Linked DNA regions of Homo sapiens: region 2 is linked to region 1. The links come from fine-mapping of genetic effects on gene expression. A gene starts in region 1. The other region holds a variant in brackets. All regions are shown on one strand. Distances are between the middles of the regions.

Region 1 (4,396 bases):
TAGAGTGGGATTCAATGTAGTATTAGTTGGCCTTAGACTCCATCCAGGAAGCTTATTTACTGAGGTAACAAAATGGGTTTTGTAGAGCAGTGCCACTCCATGAACCAAAGGATGGCATTTTAGGTAGGCTTCGGAGTACTGCCTTGTTGGGAGAGTAGATTTTTCTTTTTTGAAATGTATATCCCAGTTAATAAGTGTAAAATTCAATGCATGATAATCTAAACTTAGTTTTAACAATGAAGATGACTTTGGCTGTACAACTTGTTCTCATCTTAGACAGCATCCATAACTGAGAAAATTTGTTCAAATGATGCAGTACTTTCTGAAAGTGCTAAAGCTAATTCTATACTATACTTCACGTTTCCTACAATGAACCATTCCTTTAAAATGTTCGAACCCAGTCTTCCATGTTTTAGCAACACAAACATTGGAGACTTTTGTGAAGTGTTTTTATACATATGGTAACAAGGACAACAACCAATGTTTTCACTCCTTTGCACATTTTGGCATCATACCTCACTCAAATTGACTCATACGCCTTCTATAAATACCACGTAGATGTCTCAAAATGGAAGCATTTATTCAAAATAGTGTCTTTTGCCTTAAGGGGAAACAGTTGGGCTGTTTGAACAGTCTAACAGGAGCTCTTCTCTTCAGTGTTAAACAAGTCATTGCACTGTGCCTATTTTTAATAAAACCTTTGAGCCCAACTCAGTATTACCTCCAGGAGGGACTGTGGAGGTAATACTATTTACCTCCTGTAAATAGGGACAGGGAAACACCTATTTACACATCTGCCTGCTCACTGCCATAGTCTGTGTGGTGTTCCTTAGGACTTGTGTACCAGGTACAAGGTTTAGTTATGTGTTGAACCCGGGTACTGAAGGGCATGGAGTTTTCTGAGGGAGACTTCTCAGCTCCCCGTATACCTCTAGAGATGCAATAGCTCTTTTGTATCAAGACCAACTATGTCCTGATGTTTTCCCTGTGTAGTTCTCTAGCTGCCACTATTTTTTTTACTTTGGTCAGAATGTAAAAGGTAGGATGATGAAGAGAAGGGAACAAAAGGAGGGATTCTTAGGGACTTCCTAAACTTGAAGGCAAAAAGGATGAATGTCGCAGACATGTTTTATAGGGAACAGTGAAGTTCTTGTTTGATTAGTCTGGTAACATCATGTAAGAAAGTCACCCAACAACTGCTGGGCACCACTGCCTTTGTCACTGTCTCTTGACAAAAACTCTGTTCACGACACATGGTAGGTTTTCAATACACTTTAATAAAATAGTGAAAAATAGGTATCTCTAGGATAGTGAACTATGGGACTACAAAGGGCAGGACGATACATTTTACTTGGTTAAATTCGCTTAATGCTTACTCCTTTCTCAAAGCGCCAACCAAGAATTTGGCTACTAAATAAAGAAAAAAGCTGTTAGTGGCTCTTTATCCGCCACGATAGGGTGCTCTGAAACCCGGTCCTGCAGACATTCCCTTGGCCCACATTTTATAGCTTCCTTCTCAGTCTCAAGGCCTGTAGTCTACTGTTCACACTCGAGCCTCTCGCAAAATACACAAGCTCAAAAGCTCATGGCGTTCTCCCCATCTGGCATTCTCGGCCTTAGAATAGCAAACGTTAGGGCACCATTAGGTTCATAGTTGCCAGACCCTTCATTTTCTTTTTTAATCTTTAATTTTCTTCTTAACAAGGAAGACATTCCGCAAAAAATAAACTCCCTCTTTTGAGCTCCTTTCTCTGAAGATGGTAACTGGAACTCTCATTAGTAAAGAACCTCGAGTTCCAGTTGCTTTGGACGGAGTTTCTCGCTTAGTATTTTGCTCTTTGGCAGTTTGAAAAGCAGTAATCTTCCAACTTCGCAGCTCCCTGCACTCGCGCCTACCACCCTGATCTATTTGGCTTTCTCCTTTTTGGAGCCACTTTAAAAGGTGCAGGGTGCTGGGCCGCTGTGGCCTCGGGCTGAGAGGCGGGGAGTTGGTGTCCGGGACCAGAAAGTTTGGCAGAAGCCACGGCTCTGGGCCCAGGCCCCGGGCTTCCAGAGAAGTGTGTCATTATTTGTTTTCTGCAAAGCCGCGAGCGGGCCCACGCTGCAGCTCTGCCTCCAGGCGTGGAACCCCTCGGTAATCCGGGTGAAGCTGGGTTCCGAGTGTGGACTGCTTCGGCTCTGAGGAGGAGGGAGCCCAACGGGCCAGGCACGGGCTTCCTCCTGGCTTTACCCATTGGCCCAGAGTCCCCGGTCCCGCCGCCGCTGCCCTCTGCTCACGGGGACCGGCCATCACCGCGCTCCCAGCCTCGGCTCGCCGGGGGCTTCGCTACGCAATGCGGCGGAAGCGGCCCGTTGGAGCCGCCGTAGCGCGGGAAGTTTCCGTTGCCACGGAGATGACCTCTGACCCTAGGGCGTCTCTGGGACCCGGCAGCTTGTGCTGTTGTTGCTATGGAAACCATGGCGGCCGGAAGCCGCCGCGCGGGAGAGACTTGGGGCGCGGGTCGGGGCTAGGGCTCCTGCCCTGGCAGAGATCTTCGCTCTTCCGTGGTGGCCGGGGACCGGGCAGTGAGCGGCCGGCTCTGCCGCCCGCGGGGCGCGGGTTTGCAAGGTCACTCCTCCGGCGTTGACGCGGGGGCACCCCATGTGCACTGCTGGACCTGAGGGATGGGAAAGCCACAGGTGGCTGCCTTGGCCCTCCCGGTCTGGCCTCCCGCTAGCGGGCGCCAGCTCTGGACCCGAGACCCATCTGAAGGAAAGGGAAGGGAGCTGGCGTTGCTGGTGATTCTGCCCAAGCTCAGGACTGGGAGAGAACGAGCCAAGTTCTGGTCTCAGCTTACACACTAGCTACTGGGAGACCCTGGGCGGGTCCTGAAGTTTTCTGGGCTTCAGTCCCCTCGGCTACTACAAGAAGGATATTGATTAGAGTAATCCCAGATCAGCCCCAGCTCTAATATTCTAGGTTCCCATAACGTTCACACCCAGTCCTGATTGTAAGTAAACTTCCCTCACCCCTTCCCTGTATCTCTCCCGGACTATGTTAACTATATATTTAAATTGTACTCTAAATTCAGAGACCATCAGAGATAAGAGGTTGACCTTAGCGATCACAAACAACCTGTTCCTTTTACAGGTGTGGCAACTCCTTCCCAGTGGAGGAAGCGACTGTTCCAAGAGCCAGTTTTGGAATTGTAGGCACAAACACAGGTAGAAGCTTTGAGCCTTGGGTGAAGAAACGCGTATTTTACTGGTGACACTAGGAAGAGCTCCTCATGCGCTTCATAGAATTGTGTGGTTGGTGCTGAAATAGATGGCATTCCATTTATCCATTATATTCCCCAGATACCTTTTCCTTAGACAGTTTTAAGATTTTCGGGGTAGGGGAGGGTATCTTCACTAGTTTATTTTTCCTTCTCTCATATCCATGCTATTGGGAAAAATCTTTCTTAAATCTTTTTTATAAACCTCATTTGTAAATTAAGAAGTTGAAAAAGATTATTTTCAGAGTTTATTACAACTCTGAAATTTATGAATTATTTCTTTTAGGTCCACGTGCTTTTTATCACTTTTTCAGTAACTACAATCTCAAAAAAACAAAAAACAAAACTTAGTAAACACTTAAAAAGTGCTGCTGTGTTTGAACTGTTGATGCTGGAGATACAGGGGTGAAGAAGAGTTCTTCCTTCAAGGAATTAGCAGGAAAGACAAAAGACAGGATCAATTATGATGTGGTGAACAATTCTGTGTAGGTGGACCAAGGTGCTATAGGGCCAAGGAAGAGGGGCATGGAAAGGTTTCTGGAGGGAATAAAACTCAGACTGAGTCATGAAGAATGACTAAGAGTTAGCCACGTGGTAAAGGCACTGGTTAGGCTGTCAAGGAAGAGAAAGAAGCATACTTTAAGCTTTGGGGGCGTCAAAGATTGTGGTGCAGACCGAGAATATCAAGTACAACTGAGAAATAGAGGGTGTTTCTAGGGAGTGGCAGGTAGTGAGTGGGGTTGCAAGGTAGTGAGGCACAGATCGTGAGCTCTCTTCTGTGTCATGATCATATCTACCCTTTAGACAACCATTATGACTACAGCGTGGAAAACAGCTCTGGGTTGGGCAAGGTTGAAGGTGGAAAGACCAGGGAGGAAGAGCAGTGAGCAGTGGTGAGCGGTCCAGAATAAGGCAGTGACAGGCACTAGAGAGGAAGTGAAGTCCATCCATCTTAGTGGCCAGTTTGAATTTGGGAAGGAAGTTGAAGGAGGAGTCTGGAATTTTCTGATTACAGGTTTTTGATTTGGACAGTTCTGGTGAGCTAGTCTTCTGGCCATTTGCCAACAGAACACTTCCATCTTCTTGAGACATGGTTGGCTGTCTTCTGACTGTTTATATTGAGGGGCCGAGGTAGCTTT
Region 2 (4,396 bases), 100 kb after region 1:
CCATTGCGGAGGTATTTGCTTCTGCTAATATGGTTGTATGAAGCAATGTGTTTTGGGTAAAAGCAATGTGGTGCTGTGAAAAAACCTTTGGAGAGAAAATCCTAAGACTTGGACTTTATGTTTCTCTCTGGTACTTCTAATTCTGTAATCTCAGGCAAGATCCTAGCCTTTGATTTTCAGTGCCCTGAGGGAGAATGAGGGAATAATTATGCCTGCTTCGCCGACCTTTAGAAAGTTGGTTTTAGGATCCATTGTGTAATAATTGTGCAAAGGTATCACAAACCACACAGTGCAAAGGTATCACAAACCACACAGTACCGTACAAGTCAAAGGACAAGAAAAAAACTTAAGGCTGCTAAGGGGCAAGGAAAAGTCTAGAGTAACTAGGAATCCTCTTTGCCTACACCACGAACCATTAGATATCACAGTGCATGGTGGAGTGATGATCTTTACTGTTCAGAAGATGTTGATGAGAGGGACAGAGACGAAAGTGAATTTGTAGATACGGTTGAGAACATCTCCATGCCCCGAGCTTAGATAAAAATGCGCTCCAGTGGCACCAGAATCGATAAGAAGTATAACTAACTGAGGAACAAATGCCTGGTGATAATCATAATGATGAAGAACCTCCTGTAGAAGTTGGACAACATGATTTTTATGGTTCTTTCTGGTTTTAAACTCCTATGGGTGGCCAACTTAAAATAATCATACCAACTACTTAAAGTAAAGTAATCCACAAACTGATGGGAGAAAAACAAATCAAAGTAGGTATTTTAAAATATTTTGAATAATAGCATTCACAATGAAATCACTTCAATTTTCAAGTTGAGAACATTAACACAGAGCTTACTCTGTGCCAGACATTGTTCTAAGTGCTATTGTAACTCATTTAGTCCTCACGGTAACCTCAGGAGGTAGATCAGGAAACTGAGGCACTGAGAGAGCCGTCTTTTGATAGAGGTCACACAGATGGTTCTGAGGGAGCCAGAACTTGGACAATGGCAGTCTAACTATATAGACTAGGGAAAAGTGAAACTAGAAAAATTTCACTAATATTATCAGAAGGAAACAGCTATTTTGACCACTGGAGAAATAGTGGAAATAAGAAAGGAGGGGAGGGCAAACAGAAATTGACAATCTAGTTCCCAGCAACCACTCAAATATTCAAACACAAGTGACAGAGTTCAAGCCAAGTGGATGCCACGGGGTTAAAAGAATGCCCCTGGAGTTAATATTTAGAATGTGTTTATTTTTAGAGATAACATGAAATAAATTCCCTGCTGATATTAAATAAATTTTTAAATAAAGCAGTCCTAGTAGTTTTCCTAATCATTCAGGATGTGTTTGTTTTTTTTTTTTGGACCAAACAGTCTTCTAGAAAAAAGCAGTGGAAGATGAAGATTAAGCAATGGAGAAAAGGCCTGTTATTTTAAGAAAATTAGTTGTTAAAAAGTCAGTGGAAGATGAAGATTAAGCAATGGAGAAAAGGCCTGTTATTTTAAGAAAATTAGTTGTTAAAAAGTCATAGAAAAGACATTTTATTTGAATAAATATGTTTTCCCATTGACTTGAGTACTTTAGTTGTAGCAGATCATTCATAGATTTATGCCATAAGATTTTGACTAGAGAAGCCTCTTGTATTATGATTGCATAACAACTGCTATGTTTCATTTGTTAATTTTTGCTTGGTATTTGTGGATGTTAAGTGTTTGTTCATTTTTTTCATATTTCAGATTTCAGGTTTCTACTTCTACATCTCCAGCCCTGAATACTCATGGAATATCGCTGTACCTATGACAGGTTGCATGATTTTTCCCCCTCTGTGCACTCAATTTGTGTATTATTGTATCATATGACATTCTGAATCAAGTGCTGCTAGTACCAAGCTGCTATCATCAGCTGATGCCAAAAATATTCGTTATAACACTTCTCAGCATGCAAGTGAGAGCACTTCAAATCACACAGACAGAATTTCCAGCCATTGTTCTTTTCTTCTTTGCTTATTATACAGCAACAAGAATCAAAACAAAAGGGGATTTATTAGAAAATAATGCTTCAGTAAAATGTTATAAAACATGAGGTTTATTGTTTGTGAAGATAGAGTGAAATTCAGTACCACATTATAGATACCACCTCAGAGGCCTATTTTCCCCTTCTTTTCTCTTTTCTCAAATGTTTTTCAAGTGGCATCTTTTTTTCAGTCTTTGATTACATTAAGGTGCAAACTATTTATCCATCTGGAAATAAGCAATACTGTCAACAGAGAACCAGGAAATGAAAAGTGCAGCCGGCCATATGCCTTCTCTACGGCCTCTTTATGTTACTGTGCTGATCAGGACAAATGCAGTACCTATGGTAGCAATAGGGAGAGTGAAAATATGTATTCTCCAAGGGAAGACAATTAAAAGACAAATTCCATCAGGAAGATTTGTCATTTTTTGAGAGTGCTGATCCTGCATCTATCAGCAAATTTCACAT[A/G]AATTAATTCATTTTACAGAGTGAATGCTGAAACTTGGAAGCCAACTGACAAGATGCCAGGGATGGCATGGCAAGGAAGAGAGAGCCTTCATGGCAATTTTGAATACCTGATCTCTTGCTTTCATCATCTTGTCTAGGGGAAGAAACACGGAGCCTGGTAGTTGGGAGGTGAGAGGCAGGAATGGATACCAGAGATGGACAGACAGTGGGGTGGTGAGAAGGGAGCTGCAATTTGCTAATCCTTGTAGTACTACCTGTCAATCATCTTGCTTTCCTTAATCATCGATCCTGGAGAGACTTTGAGGAAAGGGCTGGTGGAGTTGCGCAGATGTGATCTTCATTTCAGCCTTATGAATACATACCAAGGTCTCTTTAAATCTGTGGTTCCTGCACAAAGTGCTGTGACTTCAGGCTAATAGAGAGGTCCAGATGTCACATGTGCCAATTAGAAAGAAATGAGGACCATGGCTATGGCCCACTGTGTTCAGAAGACACGCCCAAGCCACCCATTGTCATTCATTGTGTCTAATACTTGACCTGTCCTGCTGTTTATTATGTGGGGTGGCTCCATATTTTAAAAACTGTATTCATAAAAAGATATTTCTCATCCTGCTGAGTCTCAGGCCCATTGTTGTAGGTGAGGTGGTTTCTTTTGTTTGATATATAACGTTTTGCTGACTTTCGACTTGGGAATTGCAAAGGCTTACCCAAAACCCTGAAGGAAAAGCTAAGAATTCATACTTATTAAGCACTTGGTAGGTGTCTGACACTGTAGTAGATATATGCGAGAGCCCAGAACAAGCTGATGTCCATGTACATATCTTTAAAAAATATAATGATCTAGTCTTATCTGTGGAAACTGCTTCAGATACTGATCTTACTCTTTCCTGTTACATCAGAAATTCTGGAAGGTAATATCCTGAAAGATTTATCCTCAAGAATAACAATACATTAAAATCTTCTGCTTTGAAAATGCTTTGAAATTGTCAGTTTTTTTTTTTTTTTTTTTTTTTTTTTGCTATAGAGTATAAGGTAGGAAATATTTGGCAGGTAAAATGAGACATCCTCTCAACTCTGTCAGTTTTTGTCAATTTCTGGGATGATGAAAGATATGAGAACTAGAAGGCTGGTTTAGTACTGACTCCTGGTTTATGTTAAATAATGAAATGCAAGCCAGAAAAACAAATTGGCGGGGGCTCCGGCCAGCCAGCCATTCTGCAAGCGCTTGGGATTGGGCAAAGTGAGAGTCCAGGTCACAGACAAGGCCGGCTCTAATCCAGATAACTGTGGAGTCAGCATTAATGTGCTGACTCACTGCAGCGACTCTCAAGCATTTCTCTTACCCTTTAAATGCTTCCAAGTTTTATACTTTAAGTCCAAGTAGGCACCACAGGCACCATGTGGACAAGCAGGAGGGTCGGCCTGGGGTCCTACAATAAGTGATACCACCTCCCTTTTGAGGTGGTAAAAACCAGAGCATTGGAGGAGTCAGGGCAGAGGTGCAGACACCTTCCTGGGACCTGTTGAATCCTTTCAGGTGTACGTAGCTGCTGGGCTCTGAGCTCTGTATTTTTTTCCCAGCCTTATTCTTAGGGTCTGATTTTATTCCAATCAAGTCTTTAACATTCTTTCCTTGGTTTCTTCAGTATAGCACACCCCACAGTATGGTATTGTGTGGGGACTCTCAGCTTGATGGATGCTGATTTTTCTGGTTCTAAAAAATGTTATTTATTGATCTATCTATTTTAATTTACACCTATGCAGTTATTTATTTACTCTGGTGAATAGAGAACACATTCTTGACACGGGGAAGGAATACACTCCTTTAAGCTTCTCCTAGCACCACTGTGAAAACTTCTAGACTTTTTTTCCTCCCAAATCCTATGAACATGTTAGCGAGTTCCTCTCTGCCTTCTAC

Direction of the effects. Positions count from the first base shown, and alleles are read on the strand shown. Sizes are in standard deviations (SD) of each study's normalised expression.
For the expression in testis of the gene that starts at base 2,443 in region 1, allele A in region 2 goes with a lower level than allele G (large effect, 0.80 SD a copy in GTEx).

What was found. PIP is the estimated chance that this variant, and not a neighbour inherited with it, causes the effect. A credible set is the group of variants that fine-mapping cannot tell apart.
Region 2: its variant is the best candidate, but not a certain one, in a credible set for the expression of FGF14-IT1 in testis (GTEx, PIP 0.72).

Annotation. Positions count from the first base shown.
Region 1 is chr13:102,392,566-102,396,961 of GRCh38, reverse strand. It overlaps FGF14-IT1 (FGF14 intronic transcript 1), which reads left to right and starts at 2,443. Exons shown (of 4, transcript NR_036486.1): 1 at 2,443-2,608; 2 at 3,131-3,204. FGF14-AS2 (FGF14 antisense RNA 2) reads right to left here and starts at 2,384. Exons shown (of 1, transcript NR_036487.1): 1 at 1,257-2,384. It also overlaps a transcript of FGF14 not described here. RefSeq lists an enhancer at 2,308-2,537.
Region 2 is chr13:102,291,378-102,295,773 of GRCh38, reverse strand. FGF14-IT1 (FGF14 intronic transcript 1) reads left to right here. Exons shown (of 4, transcript NR_036486.1): 4 at 1,734-3,454. The region is part of intron 1 of LOC107984615 (a long non-coding RNA gene); the gene reads right to left. It also overlaps a transcript of FGF14 not described here. Among named protein-coding and RNA genes, the nearest start is that of FGF14-AS1, 74 kb to the left of the region's middle. The variant A/G (reference allele first, on the strand shown) is at 2,479.